Linked DNA regions of Homo sapiens: regions 2, 3 and 4 are each linked to region 1. The links come from fine-mapping of genetic effects on gene expression. A gene starts in region 1. Each other region holds a variant in brackets. All regions are shown on one strand. Distances are between the middles of the regions.

The links. PIP is the estimated chance that this variant, and not a neighbour inherited with it, causes the effect.
Region 2: its variant is the best candidate, but not a certain one, in a credible set for the expression of TMTC2 in tibial nerve (GTEx, PIP 0.86).
Region 3: its variant is the best candidate, but not a certain one, in a credible set for the expression of TMTC2 in whole blood (INTERVAL, PIP 0.51).
Region 4: its variant is the best candidate, but not a certain one, in a credible set for the expression of TMTC2 in cerebellar hemisphere (GTEx, PIP 0.82).

What each region holds. Positions count from the first base shown.
Region 1 is chr12:82,684,395-82,689,394 of GRCh38, reverse strand. TMTC2 (transmembrane O-mannosyltransferase targeting cadherins 2) reads right to left here and starts at 2,489. Exons shown (of 12, transcript NM_152588.3): 1 at 1,726-2,489. The coding sequence starts at 1,808. RefSeq lists silencers at 1,469-1,528, 1,889-1,938, 2,509-2,608, 3,459-3,538 and enhancers at 2,649-2,858, 2,879-3,028.
Region 2 is chr12:82,531,300-82,536,338 of GRCh38, reverse strand. No RefSeq gene overlaps it. Among named protein-coding and RNA genes, the nearest start is that of TMTC2, 150 kb to the left of the region's middle. RefSeq lists a silencer at 3,328-3,532. The variant A/G (reference allele first, on the strand shown) is at 2,172.
Region 3 is chr12:82,945,564-82,950,602 of GRCh38, reverse strand. The region is part of intron 4 of TMTC2 (transmembrane O-mannosyltransferase targeting cadherins 2); the gene reads right to left. Among named protein-coding and RNA genes, the nearest start is that of TMTC2, 260 kb to the right of the region's middle. The variant T/GT (reference allele first, on the strand shown) is at 2,228.
Region 4 is chr12:82,908,644-82,913,682 of GRCh38, reverse strand. The region is part of intron 3 of TMTC2 (transmembrane O-mannosyltransferase targeting cadherins 2); the gene reads right to left. Among named protein-coding and RNA genes, the nearest start is that of TMTC2, 220 kb to the right of the region's middle. The variant G/A (reference allele first, on the strand shown) is at 3,033.

The DNA of each region.
Region 1 (5,000 bases):
CAAGAGCCAGTAACTGCCCACACTGACCCAAGGTGGTTTTAGTGAAAAGTCACCCATCAAGTTGCATTATTATAGTAAGTTTCTTTTTTTAAATAAACTCTATATTCTTGGTTTAAATGCTTACTATTCAAACCGCCCCCAACAGAGCCAGTAACTGCCCACACTGACCCAAGCTGGTTTTAGTGAAAAGTCACCCATCTTTGGAAACAAGGGCTTTTTCCACGAATATGCTAGAAATAGCAGGTGCACCATTACACAAAATTGGAGAGAACAGAAATTTACCTCACTCCTACAGACCATTTCTCAGAGCATGCTGTGTAGTTGCTAAAATCAGTATGCTGCGTAAAAGTTAAGAAAAAATGTATGTCTAACAGTGGTTCCCTATCAACTAGCCTCTGGTAGGCACTACATAAAATGCATTAAGACGGGTTTGCTGGATGTTCTGGCACCTATTATCAGGTGATTTTTTAACAGAGATGTGAAGATGCTTTTAGCAGGAGAATGGGCACACCAGAGAATACAGAATGTGGCTAATTACGACGAGAAGAAGATTCTGCCTTCACCTCCCCTCACTGTCAACCACTTTGCGTAAGTGCTCTCACTGCCTCGCCCTAACCCTGGGGATCCATTCACTTTTCATAGCTCAGAGAGGCTGCTGAAAAGCTGTCAAAGTAAATCTGTGCTCACTTTTTGGATGGTTTAATTTCAATGGAGCATGAAACACCCCAGGACGGTTAATAAGTTTAGCCAGGCGTGCTGTTATCCCTAATATATTTTAATTATGCATCTGTTTTAATTGTAATCAGATTAAGACACCGGAAGGACACAAATTGGAATTTTCCCTAATGGATATAGGGGCTTTTCATCACTTTCTGAACACTAATAACGTTTAAAAGATAGGAAGAGACACCAACACAACGGTGACATTTTCCAGAAATCGATGCAGTTTCTTTGACAACACAGTTCAGGTCTCATTAGCCACCCAAACTAACCTAAGTGCAGAAGACAACTTCAGTCTCTAGGGGCGTCTTCTTCTCCAATTAGTACAAAAGAACCACTAACATCTAATGTACAACTCCCAAACAGAAATGAGAAAGCCGAGGCTTTTATAAAGTGCTGCCCAATGGATTGGTGAAGGAGGCTAGGGCGGCGGGAGAGACCATCAGCAGCATTATTTTGGCTCAAAGTAAAAGTCTATACACGTTAAAAGGGAAAGTTAAAGCAGAGAACGATCTCCCTTTTCACAATTTTGGCAACTATCAAACGTGTGTTTTAACTTCGGGAAATAAAAGTGTCCCATCAATAAAAGGAAACGGGACAGGGAGGATCTATCAGGGATCGAGGAGAGGCTTCCTCCCAACCAGACGTAAAATCACTTAATGTGCTTTGTTGCATCAAGGAATACCTAAGACTTTAATTTAATACGTTCATTAAACAGTTTCCCAAATTGCCGGGATTTCCGCTAAGAAACTCAAGCGTCTGCCAACAGCCGAGAAGCAAGGGAGAGAACCTGCTGCAAACTAGGAGCGGAAACTCCCTCGGCCCGCCCAGCGCGCCTCACGTCCCCGGTGTTTGATTTAGGTGTTAATGTTTACGTGTCGCCTAAACCATCAGGTGCTGAACCAGTTCCTCCAAGACGCACTTTGAGCCTTAAAGAGGGAAGCTTCAGAGCCACTGCGGAGTGTGCCCCCTGCAGCCCGTCGCCCCCTCCTCTCGGCCCCTTACCTGTCATCATAGCAGAAATCCGCACTCAGGGTGTTGAGATACAAGGCGAGCCCCAGAGCGCTGCTCACCAACTCTGCAATCATCTCTCCACCGCCTTCCCTCCGGCTCGGCTCCCAGCGCGAGGGCAGCAGCGGCAACAAAAAACAGAAGCATCAATCTCCACCTTCCGCCGCCTTCTCCTCCCAGCTTCACTTTTCCCTCGCTTCCCCACCCTCCCTCCCTCGGGTCCTTCCAATCCACGACTCCTCTCCTCCTCCTCGCGCCCGTCTCCGCAGCTCCTGCGTCCTCCCCGGGTGCGGGCTCACACCACACTCCCCATGCCCGGCGCCCGCAAGCGGTGAGCGGCGTTTGGGCTCCGCGTCCCCCGGCGGAAGCGCAGGGCTGGTCTTTCGCGCGGGTCGCGATCCCCACCCTAACCCATGGCAGTTTGGGGCGTCCTAGGTGAGGAGTGGGACTCGGAGGAGGTGGAAGGGTGCGGGATGGGGGCAGAGGGACCGGACCAAGCCGGGCTCTGGGACCAGCTGGAGGAAGAGAGAGAAAGAGGCGCGGGTGGGAGGGACAAGGCGAACCGCCTCCCCTCGCCGCCTCCCGGGCGCACTGCTCCGGTGTCGCTCGGGCGGACTCCGGCCGCCAAGGCAGCTGCTGCACATTCAATGTTTATTAGCTCCCTCCCAGCCCCAGCCCCAGCCCCAGCCCCAGCTCCCTTCTCCAGTGAAGTGAGAAGCGGTGGCTGGAGACTCCAGAAGCTCCCGCGTGGGGTTCTCGACGCGGCCCCCCGCGCCTGCGTGACCAACCCTCCATCCCGGCTTGGCCCAGCCCCTTTCTCCACCCAGATCCTCCCGGAAGGCTCCTCCTACCCTGCCCCTCGGGCTGGAGGCTCCTCCCACCCTCCCCGGCCTGGAGGCTCCTCCTACCAGCCTCCCGTCCTCTTGTTTCTTTCACCTTCGATTTCACTCTGGAAAGCCCCCGGGACCCAAGGGCGACGGCTGGAAGACAGCCCAAAGGAGTAGATACAGTGCACCCTGGGAGGGGAAGCTGGGAGAAAGGAGGTCGAGGAGGAGGTGGTCGGTCGCCCCGCTGCTGCCTGGCAGCGCCTGGCACGGCTGAATCTCAGCCACAGCGCTGTGTGTGCCAAGAGCTGCCAGGCGTAAGTCCGGTCAGCTGGAGAGACTTCTGAGACCGGGAGAGGAAGAACAGGTTTGGCGACTGCTGCAGCTTCGGTTGTCACAAACTCACTGGCGATCTCTCACGCACACTGTGTGTGAGACTAAATGGGGGGGAGGAGGTAGTATTGGAGAGCTTGGAGGCAACTTAGGAAGGAGAGATTTCAGCTCTTAGCCTACGGTTGGCCACAATGTCAGTGGAAAGACGTGTAGGGAGAGAAACGTTTCCTCCTTCAGTAAGGTTAAAAAGAAAGGACCCCAAAAAGGGAAAGAAAGACACACACACACCCCGCAGCAACTGCCCGGGGACCCCTTCGTGGTTTCAGAGGGACTGTCGGGTTGACCCTGAGAACACAGGAGAGAAACCTCTAGTGCAAGCCGGTACAGCATTATACTTAAACCTAGTAAGGCAGTAAGCTAATGCCCTTTCCTTTCCGCTCGGAGGCAGGACTGGATGGAAAGCATCCAACATGGTGAAATATGGTGTAGAATGGTCTGTGTAGAACAAGCTCTGGGTACTAAAGTTGCAAGACCAAAGAGGACCCAGGGCTGCCTGACACGCCTCCTCCCGGCTTGTTGGCTTTCTGGCCAGGAGAGTAGCTCCGGTGCACCGCGATGTACACTACTGCAGCGCCCCCTGCTGCATAGTAACCACAAGGTGTGGAAGACAGGTCTGTTTTGCATGCGGGCCGACTGGTTCCAACCAAGAGCAGCACCTAACCAGCAAGCTCTCCGAAACTGTGGCAAGAAATTGAGCCCCCTGGGTGTCTAGCAGTGGCCTGGAAAGAAAATACCGTGGTCTGGGCTTCTGTAGAACAAAGCTACATATTTCCCTGATTTCACAAGGAAATCTGAGAAATCTGTATTGGATACACACAGATAAAATGATGAATATTTATTAATATTATACCTGTTATGCCATCCACAGTAGCACATTTTTTGTGCCCTGGACAAATATATGTAAACAAAAATAAAAGGAATTATGTCTTTACAGGTAGGGACTGATCTTTTACCCTTTTCCTCCATAACCTTTGCTCACTTGAAAATTTTGAAAATCATATCAGTTAGTCCATCCTGATGCTCTGTGTCTCTCCAATGCACTTACATGCTGAGATATATATAGTATATATAAAATATGTATATGGTGTCCTAGAACACTGAAGGAAGAACACATACTGTGGGATCAGATGTTTAAGTTTGAGTGCATACTCTGCTATTACTATTTGGGCGATCTTTGGCCAGTCGTTCAACCTCTTTGTGACTCTGTTTTCTAATCTATGAAACAGTGATAATAATAGTACTTATCTTATGAGTACTGTTATTATGAGTATTAAAGTAGTTAACCTATGTAAAATATCTAAAAGGGACCAGGAAAGTGCTACAGAAGTATTAGCTAGTATATCATTATTACTATGCTTTCTAGCTTCCTCGTTTCATTTTACTTGTTAACAAAAACCTGGACAGTTACCTCCAAAACACATCCTATCACATCTTTACTACTTGAGTCCACAGCCCAGCTGCCCTCATCTCCTGCATAGACAAATGCAGTAGCCCTCTAAGTGGTCCCCGTACTTCTACCCCTGCAATGCCTCCCTTCCCCAATTTTAACTTTAGGCAGAAGTTTCCTTTGAAAACCTATACATTCCCAATTTTTAAATGTTCCACAACTTCCTGTTGTATTTTTAAATGTCCAACAACTTCCTGTTTTACAGCTAATAAAACTAATTCTTACCATGGCCAGCCAAGCCTTCATTTAGCCCAGACTACCCCTCCCGCTTCATGTTGTGTTCATATGTGTACAACACAGACATCCTTCTCAGGAACTAACCACTTTCTCTTCCTCCTGCATGAGGTTCTTCTCCTCAAACCTTCTCTAGCTCCTTCTCACCATTCAGGTCTTAGCTCAAATGGCATAACCTCAGAAATAAAGTAGGCTCTCCCCCATCAATCTCTATCCAACCACCATGTATTAGTTTCTTCATAGTATGTATTAGTATCTGGAAGCACCACTGAGTGGAAGCTCCATGAGGTCAGGGATCCTGTCAGTCTTCTTTTCCACATAAAACCCAGAGCCTATAACATCTGGACACGGAGAAGAAACTTTAAAAAGAT
Region 2 (5,039 bases), 150 kb after region 1:
TCTGGCATGGCCAGCCCCTATCCTGAGTTATCTTGTTAGCATAAACTATCTAGGGGCTCACCCTGAGTCACCTCATTACCATAAACTACAAATCTAGGGGATCCACTGTGAAAAACAAAGACATTCCTATCACTTAAGAATTTCCAGTTCAGATGTTTTCTCCCAAGAGTCAAGTGGAAACAAAGTCTAGCCCTCTCTTAAGGTAAAGTTAATTTATTTACTACTTACATGTGTAATGATAGTATCTATAAATTATTGAACATCTACAACATGGCAAGTACTTTACCTATTATCTCTAATTCTCATTAGAATTGGTATGAAGAATGTTATATATTACATTTTAAGATTAAGAAATAGTGATTTTGCTAAGGCCATAAGCTAGTAAACAGCTGACCTAGAATTAGCACCCTGGTCTGTCTAACTTCAAAGATTATGCTCTTTCTACTATTTTTAGCTTCTTTTTACTGTCAACAGATATGAACAAATACTATATGCTCCACCACTATCCCCACTCAGGCACCTCCTATGACTGTTCACTTATCCAAATGTTCAGTATCTTTTTGATTTTTTAAAAGTAAGAATTTTTAATTACATTCCTCAGATAAGAACTTAGAGTGAGAGTAACATTCTGCAAATTTTTGCAAGTGAGGAAAAATAAATATGTAGTAAAATGTAAGGGATATATATTTTATTGTTCTCCAATTTTAAGAGATAGAAAACATTTCCAATTGCTGGGCGAGGTGTCAGAACCCCGGCATCAGGAAGTGGTCGACTTGCCGGTTCGTAAGAATTTACCGACAACAGTATAGATTTGAAAAAGAAATGTTTAATAGGAAGAAAGAATGCTGCAAAGGGTGAAGTGGCACACCTCAGTTACAACCTCACCAACCTACCCCATAAGGTGGTCCTGCAGAATGAGGATGGGGACAAGGGCAAAGGCAAGGACAAACACCTCTAACTTTATTCCTGAAAAGAAGGAGGGGCAATTTCCTATAGAAAAATCAAAGTGCTGCTATTATAAAAAGGATGAATGTATAACTGATAGAAGAGAAAAGGGGAGAGAGGGAGAGGGAGAGAGAGAGAGAGAGAGAGAGAGAGAGAGGAGAGAGACAGAGAGAGAGAGAAATTCCATACCACCTCATTCACCAAATGGGACAATAACTCAAGCTGAAGCATTGGAGTAAGTGATGTGTTCCTGTACCTCCTCTCCCCTCTTGCATTCCCTTCATATGAAGCTTCCCTTTTTAAATGCTAGATTTCTGCCCCCAAATTTGAAATGATTTCTTTAAGGCAGGAAGCCTAGACCATTTCCCCACTGCTAGCTTGGGAAGTAAAGTCACTTGCCTTCTGCCGCATCTCTTCTTTGTTACTCAGTTTTACAAGCAGAGAGAAGTTGAAACTGCATTCGGTTACACAAGGACAATTAGTGATAGGGGTGTGCATATATACAAATAAGTCAAATAGGGACATTAATTATAATCTCCATGGAAAACTTGTTTAAAAGTCCTCACTTTTATGTACACAGAACAAATCGAAGGGAGGATTTCACGACATTAGGCTAGTGGTAAGTGGAGACACCTACTGAGGTAAATGAAGTTCTAAACCATTAAAATATACCAAAAACTTGAACTGGTTTATCTGATATTTCCACTGTGCTTTATGATACCAAATAGTGTCAACCGTGATAGCACTAAAAAGATAGCATCACACCACCATTCATATTATGTACAATCTAAATAAAAACAGAGTGCTTGCTGTGCAAAATGCAGCTTTAAGACATAGTCCCCCACAAAGATTGTTGGCCTAAGTTCTATATGGTGTACTGATTGCAAAAATATCCTAACTTCCAACCCTTTCTGTATCTACTCACTATGAGATGTGACATTCCAGTTCCTTCCATTAAGATATGGAGTGTGTTTCCCAGCCTTTAACTCTCTCTGGGGTAGCCTATGGCTTGTTTTGAACAAAAGAATATGTCACAAATAAAAGAAATTCAGTTCTGGTCCTAGACCTCAAATGGCCTTGTACACTTATAACTCACGCTCTTGGATTCTCGCCACCACCATGAAAACAAGTCTGGTTAGCCTGTTAAAGGGAAATGAGGAAAACTTGGTGGTGGGCAGAGTTTTCCCTGATGGGGCCATCCTAGATCACTTTACTTGGTTGGATGT[A/G]ATATGCTATGCAGAAGCATAGCTGACCTTCCATTTGGCTATAGAAGCATAAGTGACGCAGTTGAGATCATCAGAGCCCAGCTCAGAACTTCAGAACCAACCAGTCAATCCGTATACTCATAAGTTCATGTTTATTATTGTATGTTCCACTGAAGTGCTGTGTTTTTTATGCAGCATTATTGTGACAATGGATAACTGATTTGCCCTTCTTCTGTATAACAGCCACTGAGAGGAAGGAATCAGAGACCTCTTCCTGATACGTCTTCCATATATTTATCTTGCAAATATCTACGGGTAAATAAGGAATGAGAATAAATGTATAATACTTGACCATTCTGTTTTCATGAAGCATTACGAGGTCTTAGACCACAACCAGAATTTGCATTCTGGTTGTGTATTTGCACAGGAAAGTGATTACAAAACCACAACCAGAACATAAATTCACTTGATAACCATCAAACTATCACTTCACTTTGTGTTTTCCTAGATCTAGACACTATGTTCAGTAAAAATACAAATACTCACTGGTAGTTATCTTTACAACATACAGCTATGAACAAATTTTTAAAAAGAAGCCTTCGCTAAAAATAATTTGTTTATATGCTAAGTATAAAAATGGCTCCTTTCCAACAGAGGAAATTGCCTAGATGTTATACTTCAGCCAAAAGTATCAGATCAAGCTTGGAAATTACTTTTCCTGAAATCAAGCAACCATATGAAGTACATAATTTGAAATCAGAGTTGAGAATGAACACTTTAAACTTTACAGATGATATTTATTAACACTTATTACATGCTAATGGAATATTCAGAACTTCACAAAAAACCCATGCCCTTATGCCTCATTTTTATAGATCTTGGAGGACTCACCTCCTTTTTTAGATACCTGCTAGAGTAAAAGTTGCTCAACACCTGGGTCTATGGCAGAATCAAATTGCATCCGTACTTATAATTCTTTTCTGGTTATATTTGCACAATTAAATCTCAGCAGAGATTTTTTTTTTATTATACTTTAAGTTCTAGGGTACATGTGCACAACGTGCAGGTTTGTTACATATGTATACATGTGCCATGTTGGTGTGCTGCACCATTAACTCCTCATTTACATTAGGTATATCTCCTAATGCTATCCCTCCCCCCTCCCCCCACCCCATGACAGGCCCCAGTGTGTGACATGCCCCTTCCTGTGTCCAGGTGTTCTCATTGTTCAATTCCCACTTACAAGTGAGAACACGCGTGTTTGGTTTTCTGTCCTTGCGATAGTTTGCTGAGAATGATGGTTTCCAGCCTCATCCATGTCCCTATGAAGGACATGAACTCATCATTTTTTATGGCTGCATAGTATTCCATGGTGTATATGAGCCACGTTTTCTTAATCCAGTCTATCATTGTTGGACATTTGGGTTGGTTCCAAGTCTTTGCTATTGTGAATAGTGCCACAATAAACATACATATGCATGTGTCTTTATAACAGCATGTTTTATAATCCTTTTGGTATATACCCAGTAATGGGATGGCTGGGTCAAATGGTATTTCTAGTTCTAGATCCTTGAGGAATTGCCACACTGTCTTCCACAATGGTTGAACTAGTTTACAGTCCCACCAACAGTGTAAAAGTGTTCCTATTTCCCCACATCCTCTCCAGCACCTGTTGTTTCCTGACTTTTTAATGATCGCCATTCTAACTGGTGTGAGATGGTATCTCATTGTGGTTTTGATTTGCATTTCAACCTAACAATGACTTTCTTCACAGAATTGGAAAAAACCACTTTAAAGTTCATATGGAACAAAAAAAGAGCCTGCATTGCCAAGACAATCCTAAGCCAAAAGAACAAAGCTGGAGGCATCATGCTACCTGACTTCAAACTATACTACAAGGCTACAGTAACCAAAACAGCATGTTACTGGTACCAAAACAGAGATATAGACCAATGGAACAGAACAGAGCCCTCAGAAATAATACCACACATCTACAACCATCTGATCTTTGACAAACCTGACAAAAACAATAAATGGGGAAAGAATTCCCTATTTAATAAATGGTGCTGGGAAAATTGGCTAGCCATATGTAGAAAGCTGAAACTGGATCCCTTCCTTACACCTTATACAAAAATTAATTCAAGATGGATTAAAGACTTAAATGTTAGACCTAAAATGGAGATTTTTAGTCTCTTCCATTCCCAAATCTCCTCTACCTCTATCTTATTCTTAAATAAGTTAATTCCCAAAGCAAATGAATAACCATTCCTCAAGTAAGTGAAAAGAATACACAGTTTCCAAATGCCTTTTACCTGTATACTTTATGGGATGCTATTTTTTTCCCTCTTTACTCAAAAGAATAGCAATTCTTTACCATAGGTTAATACATAATCATTTGAAATCAGATTATATTCTTGATGGGCTGAAATGAAAGAAGTCAGTTTCCTGAATACAAATAAATGGTATTTGTCTCTTTGAATACTGTGATAGGAAGCTTTTTAATTATAGGCTTTTTATTGAAGTTTGGCTTCCTTATCAAATATTTTTTTTCTACCAATTTCATAAAGCAACATGCCCAGAGGACTGAATTTATTAATCTATATTTTGATGGGGAGCTATTTAGTTTTGTCCACTTACTTGTTTTAAAGATGGGAAAGTAGTAGCAAAATACACCCTGTGTCCTAAAACGATGATGAAATTCGGGGGCTACTCCAGGTAAGAAGTGAGAATAAAAGACTGGCGTGCTGAAACATAACATTTAGGCAATTTTATAATAGGGCAATGGATACTTCCAAGAAAAAACTTATAATTGCTCTTTTAAAGGTATAAATATGCTGGGCACGGTGGCTCATGCCTGTAATCCTAGCACTTTGGGATGCCAAGGGTGGC
Region 3 (5,039 bases), 260 kb before region 1:
AATAAGACGCTTTACAACTATTATGTATTTCTCACAATGAACCCATAAAGGTATCAACCTTATCTTAAAATGAAGGGTTCAAAGATCAGAATGGTTAAGCAACTTAAGTCTATGCAGCTAGTTGTTATTGTTGGATCTAGGATTCGGAGAACTACATTGTATATTCATATATGCATAATTTACTTTGTACCTACCTTTTGAATATATAACTAAGACTACATTTTCTTCCACATGTCAAAATAATAGGTGTGAATATATTTTCCTAGTTTAAAAACAGTACTCAACAGGAAGTAATAAAGATTAATACTTGGGGTTTAAGTTTTTCATATTATTTCTTTCCACCCTTGCAATTAGCAATAGCAATTATTATTCTTTTTACTTTAGAGTCTAAAAATGAAGGGGGAGAATTTAAATAATTTGTCCATGATAATGTAGCTGTCAAGACTCAAGATGAGATTCAAATTCAGAGGTATCAGGCTTCAAATCACCAACACTGGGAATAGGTGACTGCTTTTAGCTTAGTATTAATACCCGCCCTTTCTCTCTGGTTCATATACACACTGCTTCTTAATTATCTCAGTCAACAAATTTCTCTTCTTTTCTTATTTATACATGCACTTCCCAACATGTAAGCATCTTGAATTTGCATCGTGAGATAAACTGCAGCCTCCCAATGACAGTCAACCTCTATTTTACCAAGAAATGCATCACAACCAATACACTTATAAAGGGGTTTCCTTGAGTTACTCTTGTGCTTTGGACTCACTCCTCTTCATGGACGTGGTTGCCAGTGAGATAAGACATAGCCCCAAAATGGCATAGCCAGGGAACACTAAGAAATAGAATAAAATTACCAGCTAACAAACTCTTCAGATTTTATTATCATATAATTATATCAAATTTCTAGACATTATATTAACGTCTCTTATATTATATAATGCAACTCAACCCAATGTTGCAGATGAAGAATAAGGATTAAATAATTTGCCTAAGGTCAGACACAGGACCAATAAATGAATGATTTGAAGCCAAGTCTGTTTAAAGCCAAAGACATGCTCTGAAGTATTTCACTGAGCTGCCTCCAAAGTACAAGGTTGCCAGATAATTTAATTTAAAAAATTTTAAAAAAGCAACTTTTCCCCTTTCCCCATTACCCTTCCCATGAAAACAAATATGACTCTGGTAAGTCCATATATATCTTCTGGAATCACAGTCAAATCTCTTTCAAGTATTTCCTTCATCCTCTGGGAGAATTTTTATTTAAAACAAACAAAATTAAGAAATGAAAAGCATCTAACACAAGTTAAAGGCACTAACCACAAATGATTTAACTTTAAACCTATATACTGATTTACTATCTATTCTTTGCTATTTGCAGGTGCTATCCAACATGGACGTCTAATCTTTATGTAATTTCTTGGAGAAGAAACACCTATCAGTTGGAGAGTGTGTAACCACTGCAGAGGAACTCCTACGCTGGAATACAAGCATAGGCCAAAACCTTTCTTGCTCAGTAAAACTCAATGTAGTTAGACTGACTTGTTTATTCATTCAAAACATATTTTGAAAGTACCATTATGGAGGTTTAATGATTAGAAAAGATAAATTATTTAAAAAGCAGCGCCAATGCTGAGTTGATATGCTTTGAATGCTTTGGTATAGTATGATACACTATGGAAGTCCACAGCCAGAAAACCTAACTTAAACAAGTTTGTTCAGGCAGAGGGAAGAAAAAAGGAAAAAAAAAAATAGCTTTTGAGAATTCTACAGAAATCAACACACTCAAAAAAATTACAAAAAGAAAAAAAAGCTTCACGGCAAGATTCCATCACAGATATGGTTATAATTTGGGTTAGAGATGACCCCATGGGCACACAGAGATTTAGTGCAATGCACTCACTTTAAACATAAATGTTCAACAAAGTGGGTGTTTTCTTTGTCCCTTAACAGCAGTGCACTAATGAAAGTCTGCTGTTAAAGCAATAAATTATGAAAGGGGAAAAGGTATCATGTATCTTATGGACCAGCGGGAATAGGTGTTAGGTCATACAAGCAGTTTCTAAGTTAAAAATAAGGAAGATGAGTTCCAAAAATGAAAGTCTGAAGCTATATATATATTTTTTTGCTTGGAATAGATTTTTCAACTTAGCAACAATTCACTTGAAGGTTTATCCTGAATACTTCAGAATTAGAAGAAAAACACTATTCATAACAATCTTTTTTTTTT[T/GT]TGTTTAAATTAAGGTAGGGTTTCCCTCTGTTGTCCAGGCTGGAGTGCAGTGGTATAAGCATGGCTCACTGCAGCCTGAGTCTCTTGGGCTTAAGGAATTCTCCCACATCAGCCTCCTAAGTAGCTGGGACTATCGGCATTTGCCACCAGGCCTGGCTATTTTTGCTTTTTAAATAGAAACAAGGTCTCACTATATTGCCCAGGCTGGTCTTGAACTTCTGGGCTCAAGTGACCCTCGTGCCTTGGCCTCCCAAAGTGCTGGATTACAGATGTGAGCCACTGAGCTTGGCCTGTAACAATCTTTCTAAAGTTGCATTTGTTGATTTAATTTTGGTGCAGAAAAGGAATGGCCCCCTTCACTGAACTCAGTGGTCATAGAGAATGAGGAGCAATTCATTGCCATAGGCATCATTTAGCGGCTTCAGTCATGGAAGCAGGAGCCAAATTGGTAGACAAGGCTGAAGAATGGAGAAAAAGGGCTGAGAGACGTTGACAGAATGATGGAGGTCTGGGGATCAAGATGCCAAATTAAGAGAAAACTGGCAAATACACTCAGCAGCACTTGCTTCTATTCTCTTTTCTATTCATTCTACCCTTATATTTAATAAGGCTACTGGTCTTATTTCCCTTGACTTTTCTTTAAAACAAAACAAAACAACAACAAAAAAACAGGGCGTAAGAAATGGCCAACTTGCTTATTTTTCCAAGCCATCGATTGTTGCTTTTGATTAAAAATTGCACTCTGAGGCTGGGCACGGTGGCTCACGCCTGTAATCCCAGCACTTTGGGAGGCCGAGGCAGGCGGATCACCAGGTCAGGAGATCGAGACCACGGTGAAACCCCGTCTCTACTAAAAATACAAAAAATTAGCCGGGCATGGTGGCGGGCGCCTGTAGTCCCAGCTACTCGGGAGGCTGAGGCAGGAGAATGGCGTGAACCCGGAAGGCGGAGCTTGCAGTGAGCCGAGATCGCGCCACTGCACTCCAGCCTGGGCGACAAGAGCGAGACTCCGTCTCAAAAAAAAAAAAAAGAAAAAAAAAGAAAAAAAAATTGCACTCTGCTCCAACACCCAGTTTCAGGAGACTGAGTACACACTTTGCAGCCCAGGTTTGCACCTAACACTAAAGTTGGTCTTTGAAGATTTAGAGATTTTTTTCTAAAGAAATTTTATTTCAAACAGGCAAATGTACAGGGGACACACTCAAACACAATACCATCTTTTAAAGGCTGTCCTTAGAATAACAGTGCAGTTAAAACCCAGTCACCCTGTAGACTTAAGACAACTTGGATTGTTCTAACCAGAAATTTCTGTTGTTAAAGAAAGTGCATGCCTGGGCCGGGTGCGGTGGCTCACGTCTGTAATCCCAGCACTTTGGGAGGCCGAGGAGGGCAGATTACGAGGTCAGGAGATCGAGACCATCTTGGCTAACACTGCGAAACCCCGTCTTTACTAAAAAATACACAAAATTAGCCCGGGGTGGTGGCGGGCGCCTGTAGTCCCAGCTACTTGGGAGGCTGAGGCAGGAGAATGGCGTGAACCCGGGAGGTGGAGCTTGCAGTGAGCCGAGATGGCGCCACTGCACTTCACCCTGGGCGACAGAGCAAGACTCTGTCTCAAAAAAAAAAAAAAGAAAAGAAAAGTGCATGCCTACTCTCTGAGTCTGATGATGACATGTGGTTTCTAGAACAAGGCTCCATCTGTCTCTCTATTGCTAGATGGCTGTTGGACATTTCCTCACACTGTCCTCCTTATTATCAGAATAGCAAGATGGCATCACTTTTACCCAAACCCTGTGCCATGAAACACCCTCAGCTTATCATCTGTAACAATAGGGTCGCTAAGTGCAAAATGAAATGAGAGGCACAATGATTAAAAGCAATGGAGATGTGAAGCAAAAAGGGCATCCTTAGGTATTCTTTAATTCTGCAGGGGTAAATGGGAGAGAAGAAGGGAGAAAGAGAGAAGGAAAGATTCTAAAGTAATCTATGTACACCCTTCACACATGAGGAATTTAAGGAAAACATATGTACCTAAATCAATGTGCATGCAACTATTATTTATTGAACACATATGCTAAGCACTATTGCAGACACTAAGAATATATATAAAAACAATGCTTTGGTGAAGCTTACATTTTAGCAATATACAAAGTAAACTAGGTTTACATTAATTTTAATATCATTATTTGTCATTATAGGTAGTAAATTATATAGTTCACTAGAAGGTAATACATGCAATGTTTTAAAGAATAAAGTATAGGGGAACAGAAGTCTGAGAGAGGCAGATGGGTTGCTAATTTAAATAGAATTGGCTAGGAGGCCTCATTCAGAGAGTAACATTGAAGCAAAGAATTGAAAGAAATGAGTGATATAATTTAGCTATAGAAATAATGTATTATTTAGTAGAAATAATATGTAAGAAAAAATAAGCAGCAGATGACACATTCATTTTTTAAATTCACTATCATCTAAATATCCAGATGTCCTTCAAACTTCAATTACACTTTAAGTAACTTTTCCATCATATAGGGGAAACCACAGTTAGGTTTTGTACAAGAAAGAAAGTAAATTAAGTGAAAGACAATATTACTATATTTCCTGGTGTGTCTAGGAAATAATTCTTAACTCACAGTAATTGGAAATCTGCAGAGGACTGATTGGAACTACACAAATAAATTTACATCTGTTCATTTTTCTTCAGGAGCAGAGAAATAAGAAACTTTTTTCATAATGCAAAACCTCCTTCTGAGAAAATTGAAATTAATTTACTTGAAATTCTGCTGCACATCAGCCTGCACTTTCCATGTTAGCG
Region 4 (5,039 bases), 220 kb before region 1:
ATTAAAAAGAAGCTAGTACCCAGAGGGTTAAGTAAGATAGAGGAAAAATCAGGAAATATGTCAAAACCAGTGATTAATGAATATTACCAATTAAAAAATATGACTAGATGTGTGGTCTTAGATATAAAGCCATATATTCTATTCATGAGTTTTAAATAATCTTGTCAGATTATTGACATGTCAGGATGATTAAAACTCATAGAGAAGCCACATTTTCCTTTCAAATAATCAGAACTGGGTCTTAGGATATACTTCTTTAAACCCTAATTTTTAACTTAAAACCTCAAAAGTAAATGTCTGCTCCAGGCTCAATGTGAGAATGAGCTGAGAACCAGCAAAAGCCAAAACCAAAGTATGATGGTCCTCTGCCCAAAGCAGTGCACAGCCTCTTGCTTCTGGAATGGTACCACAGAGAACAGAAGCATGGCATTAGGACTTTAGTGACTTCATCAACTGCCCTCAAAAACTATCTCAAAATCATTGTGCTAAAGTGTAATGGCAAAAGAAATTTTAAAATTCTGTACTGTTGCTTCCAAATAATAGCATTTCAAGAACAAAAAGTAATTTTAAATTTATCACTGTGATTAGAGATAAGAAAAATGCAGAATACATGGGTTTGTACAGTAATCGTAATATACTAATGTTTTCATTATGCAAGCACAGAAACTCCTTTCTAACTTAAAATTATTGTAAATATTTACATGAATATGAATATTACCACCCATTCTTTTTTTTTTTTTTTTCAGACAAGGTCTCAACTCTGTCACCCAGGCTGGAGTGCAGTGGCGTGACCATAGCGTACTGCAGCTTCGACCTCCCCAGGATCAGGTGATCCTCCCACCTCAGCCCCCCAAGTAGCTGCAACTACAGGTATGCACCACCACACTCAGCTATTTTTTGAATTTTTTGTGGAGACAGGGTTTCACCATGTTGCCCAGGCAGGTCTCAAACTCCTGGGCTCAAGTGATCCACCCATCTCTGCCTCCTAAAGTGCTAGAATTATAGGCGAGAACCACTGCACCCAACCACCATTCATTCTTAACCACAATTGTGAAGGTAACATGATGCCATCATCTTTGGAAAATATTCAGATTACTCAACACCAGTACTGCAAACCATCAAAACTTGTTTGCAAATCTCAAAGAGATTAAGTCAACTGACTTGGTGAAAAAGGAAAACATTTCAAAATATCTTAGACCTTGTGGTCTTTGCTGGTAGTCTCATGAAATACAAGTTGAGATATTTACTCTCTTATCCTAAGCAAGGAGAGGTAAGAAGAGCAGAAAAAAAATCACATTTCTTTATGATATGACTTCCAAGTTCCTACACAGAGCCCCAAATATTAAACGACTGTAAGTTTCCTCTGCTATTCCAGGCATCTTAAGAAGAAAACGCCATGCTTTGACACCTGGGTAATCTGTTCTTGTCAAAACTTGACTCTGAGCTGATATATTACATTTCTAACCCAGTTCCTTCTTTCTACACTTAAAATGTCTACAGAGAAATTTTTCATAATTAAAACATATGTTTAAAGTGCTTCCAAAAAAGATATTAATGCTGATATTTTAATATCTTATGTGTTTTGCAAAAAGGAACTGAATTATGCTGTTTAAGATCACTGAAAGAATGGGCTGAGAGGCAGCTGGTATTATTGGGAATTAGAATCCTTAAATACAAGACAAAATAAAACCTCCAATACAGTTCTGCTCTCAAGATGATGTTTTTGTTGTTCTAAATTTCCTTCTAGGTACTGTCTAACCAAATCCGAGTATGGGCTGGACGAGGTGGTTCACACCTGTAGTCCCAGCACTTTGGGAGGCCTATGCGGTCAGATCACTTGAGGACAGGAGTTTGAGACCAGCCTAGCAAACATGGCAAAACCCCATCTCTACTAAAAATACAAAACTTAGCCAGGCATGGTTAATTACAGGCGCACACCTGTAATTCCAGCTACTGGGGAGGCTGAGGCACACGAATCACTTGCACCGGGAGGCAGAGGTTGCAGTGAGCCAAGATCGTGCCACTGTACTCCAGCCTGGGCAACAGAGCAAGACGCCATCTCAAAAAAAGAAAAGAAAAAAATAAATAAGAATACGGCTTATACTTAGAAAACAATATTATCATTCTTTAAAAAAGAACGTCTAATATGTTTGATCATTATTTCATTTTGAGCAAGCACATGATATTTATGTCCCTCCTAGATCCCCTTGGATGATAATGTTAAAACTGCAAAGAAATTTACACTGAGAAGCCATGGTCAAGTGATGATGATAACAGAGTGCTGGGAAGGGAAGAGAGTGGTCCCTTTAAATGACACAGAGGCTGGAGGTGGGCGGGGGTGGGGGAAGGGCTGGGTAGAGGAGGGCATGGTTCCTTGCTAGGGCTCCACCCAACAGACCTAGGGGAGGACAGGCACTCCTGCCTTCCTGCCCAAATGTTGCATTTTCCAAGACCACCCTGGCCCCCCCACACCCAAACCCTGGGGCTGTAAAAACCCGAGACCCGCCGGGCGCAGTGGCTCACACCTGCAATCCCAACACTTTGGGAGGCTGAGGTGGGTGGCTCACAAGGTCAGGAGATAGAGACCATCCTGGCTAACACGGTGAAACTCTGTCTCTACTAAAAATACAAAAAATTAGCCGGGCATGGTGGCGGACGCCTGTAGTCCCAGCTACTCGGGAGGCTGAGGCAGGAGAATGGCGTGAAACCGGGTGGTGGAGGTTGCAGTGAGCCAAGATCACACCACTGCACTCCAGCCTGGGCGACAGAGCGAGACTCTGCCTCTGTCTCTAAAAAAAAAAAAAAGAAAAAAACAACCCAGAGACCCTAGCAGGCAGACACACAGAAGCTGCTGCTGGATGGCAAGAGGAACACATCTGCAGAAAATGACAAGAGGCTGGACACAGACAGGGGCATACCAGAAGGACATCCACCAGCCAAATGAGGCAGAGTTTGGCCGGAGCAATCAGAGGAGAGCCCAGGCTGGGGAGCAGCCGGACTCCATGGGAAATCCATCTCCCTTCTGGCCCTCC[G/A]TCTGCTAAGAGCTACTTCTTAATCAAACCTTCCACTCATTCTCCAAGCCCACATGTAATCCGATTCTTCTGATACACCAAGGTAAGAAACCCTGGGATACAGAAATCCCTCTGTCCTTGTGATAAGGAAGGGGGTCTAATTGAGCTAACACAAGCCGCCTATAGAGGGCTAAACTAAAGGAGCATACTGTAACATGCCCACTGGGGCTTCAGTAGCTGTAAACATTCACCCCCTAGGCACTGCCGTGGGGTTGGAGCCTGGGGTTGGAGCCTGCCTGTCCGTATGTTCCCCTAGAGGTTTGATCAGAAGAAGTGAGCCACACCCTCTTCACACGCGCTGTGAGGGGGACAGGGGAAATTTTCCCATTTCAGTAAGATTTCTAATTTAATGCCCACATGCATAAAAATTAAAATACGGCTCACACTTCCTCTACATCAAATCCTTTTACAATAATTATATGACTTGAATATCTCAATTTTTTCCATAACTTCTTGAGACTTATCTGGAATTCTCTTCAAAATCCATGATCACCAGAAATAGGCACCAGTGCGTGATAAGGCTAAAACTAAGACAGGTGTTTGTCCTCTCGAAAATCTGCTCTTTAACAATATCAGCAATTGTATCTATATTACAGAAAGGAAGGAACATATTTTACCCTGCTTTAGAGGGTTCAAATACCTGTAATTTGATAGTGTTTTTACACATATTTTTAGCTTCTTTTAAGTTTTCTTTTGCTGAAAGAGAATTAAATATTTCAAAAATAGTAGCTCTGATCTTAACTCTATTCTCAAATAGAACTTCTAACATAGCTAATCATTCCTTAATAGGTGTCAGATTTGAAGATATTTCATAGGTCTCATTTTCTGACAGTATAGTGAAACTCTATGTTCAGAGAATCACACCTTGTACAGAACCAATAAAAATGCTACATTAAAAATAAAAATATTTGCAAATGAATGTATTAATTGGTTGGAAAGTAAGGGCAAACCTGAAGTCTAAAAACTTCATGAGGCCAGGCACGGTGGCTCATGCCTGTAATCCCAGCACTTTGGGAGGCTGAGGCGGGTGGATCACAAGGTCAGGAGAATGAGACTGTCCTGGCTAACATGGTGAAACCCCATCTCTACTAAAAATACAAAAAAATTGGCAGGGTGTGGTGGCACGTGCCTGTAATCCCAGCTACTTGGGAGGCTGAAGGAGGAGAATCACTTGAACCTGGGAGGTGGAGGTTGCAGTGATCCGAGATCGCACCACTATACCCCAGCCTGGGCGACAGAGTGAGACTCCATCTCAAAAACAAACAAACAAAAACCTTCATGAATGCAGGACTCCAGAAAAGTAAACTAGCTGTGAAGATGGTATTCACCTTGCATACACTAGATCTGTCAAACAGATAAACCTAGGTTTAGGCTTTAATGAACTTCATGCAGGAGGTCACACTGCAGAAGCCACATAAACTGTGATCTGCCTGAAAGGAAACAGACTTCATCACTTAACTAGCAACAAAAAAATTTAAAAAACTTAGAGAATGAAAAGATGGGTGACTGTTTGGCCTATTTGGACAAACAGAAAATAGGCAAAAATATTCCTTGGGAATTCTTATGCGTAGGTCCACCTTCACAAAGTTTGGGGCAATACTACATCTGTTGCCTGAAGAGTATCCAAGCAAAAACACTTTTAAAACTACAATTGTAGCAGAGATTTTTAGAAAGATATTACAAGAATATTATGTGTAACATTGTACCAATTGAACAAAACACAGAGAAAAAAGTTACTAAAACTGACCCAAAAGCAAATTTGGCTCTTTCCAAAACTATGAAAGAAATTAAATCAACAGGAAAAAAAAAGAGTCATCTATAACCAAAACATTATGCCTAGCTAGTTTTGCAGGTAAATTCTACCTAATATAGAAGAAAAAAATAATTCTAATTTTACATAAAATCTTTGAGGGAATGAAAAAGAAGTAATGCTCCTAACCTGATTCTATAAGGTTAAGATCATTGATT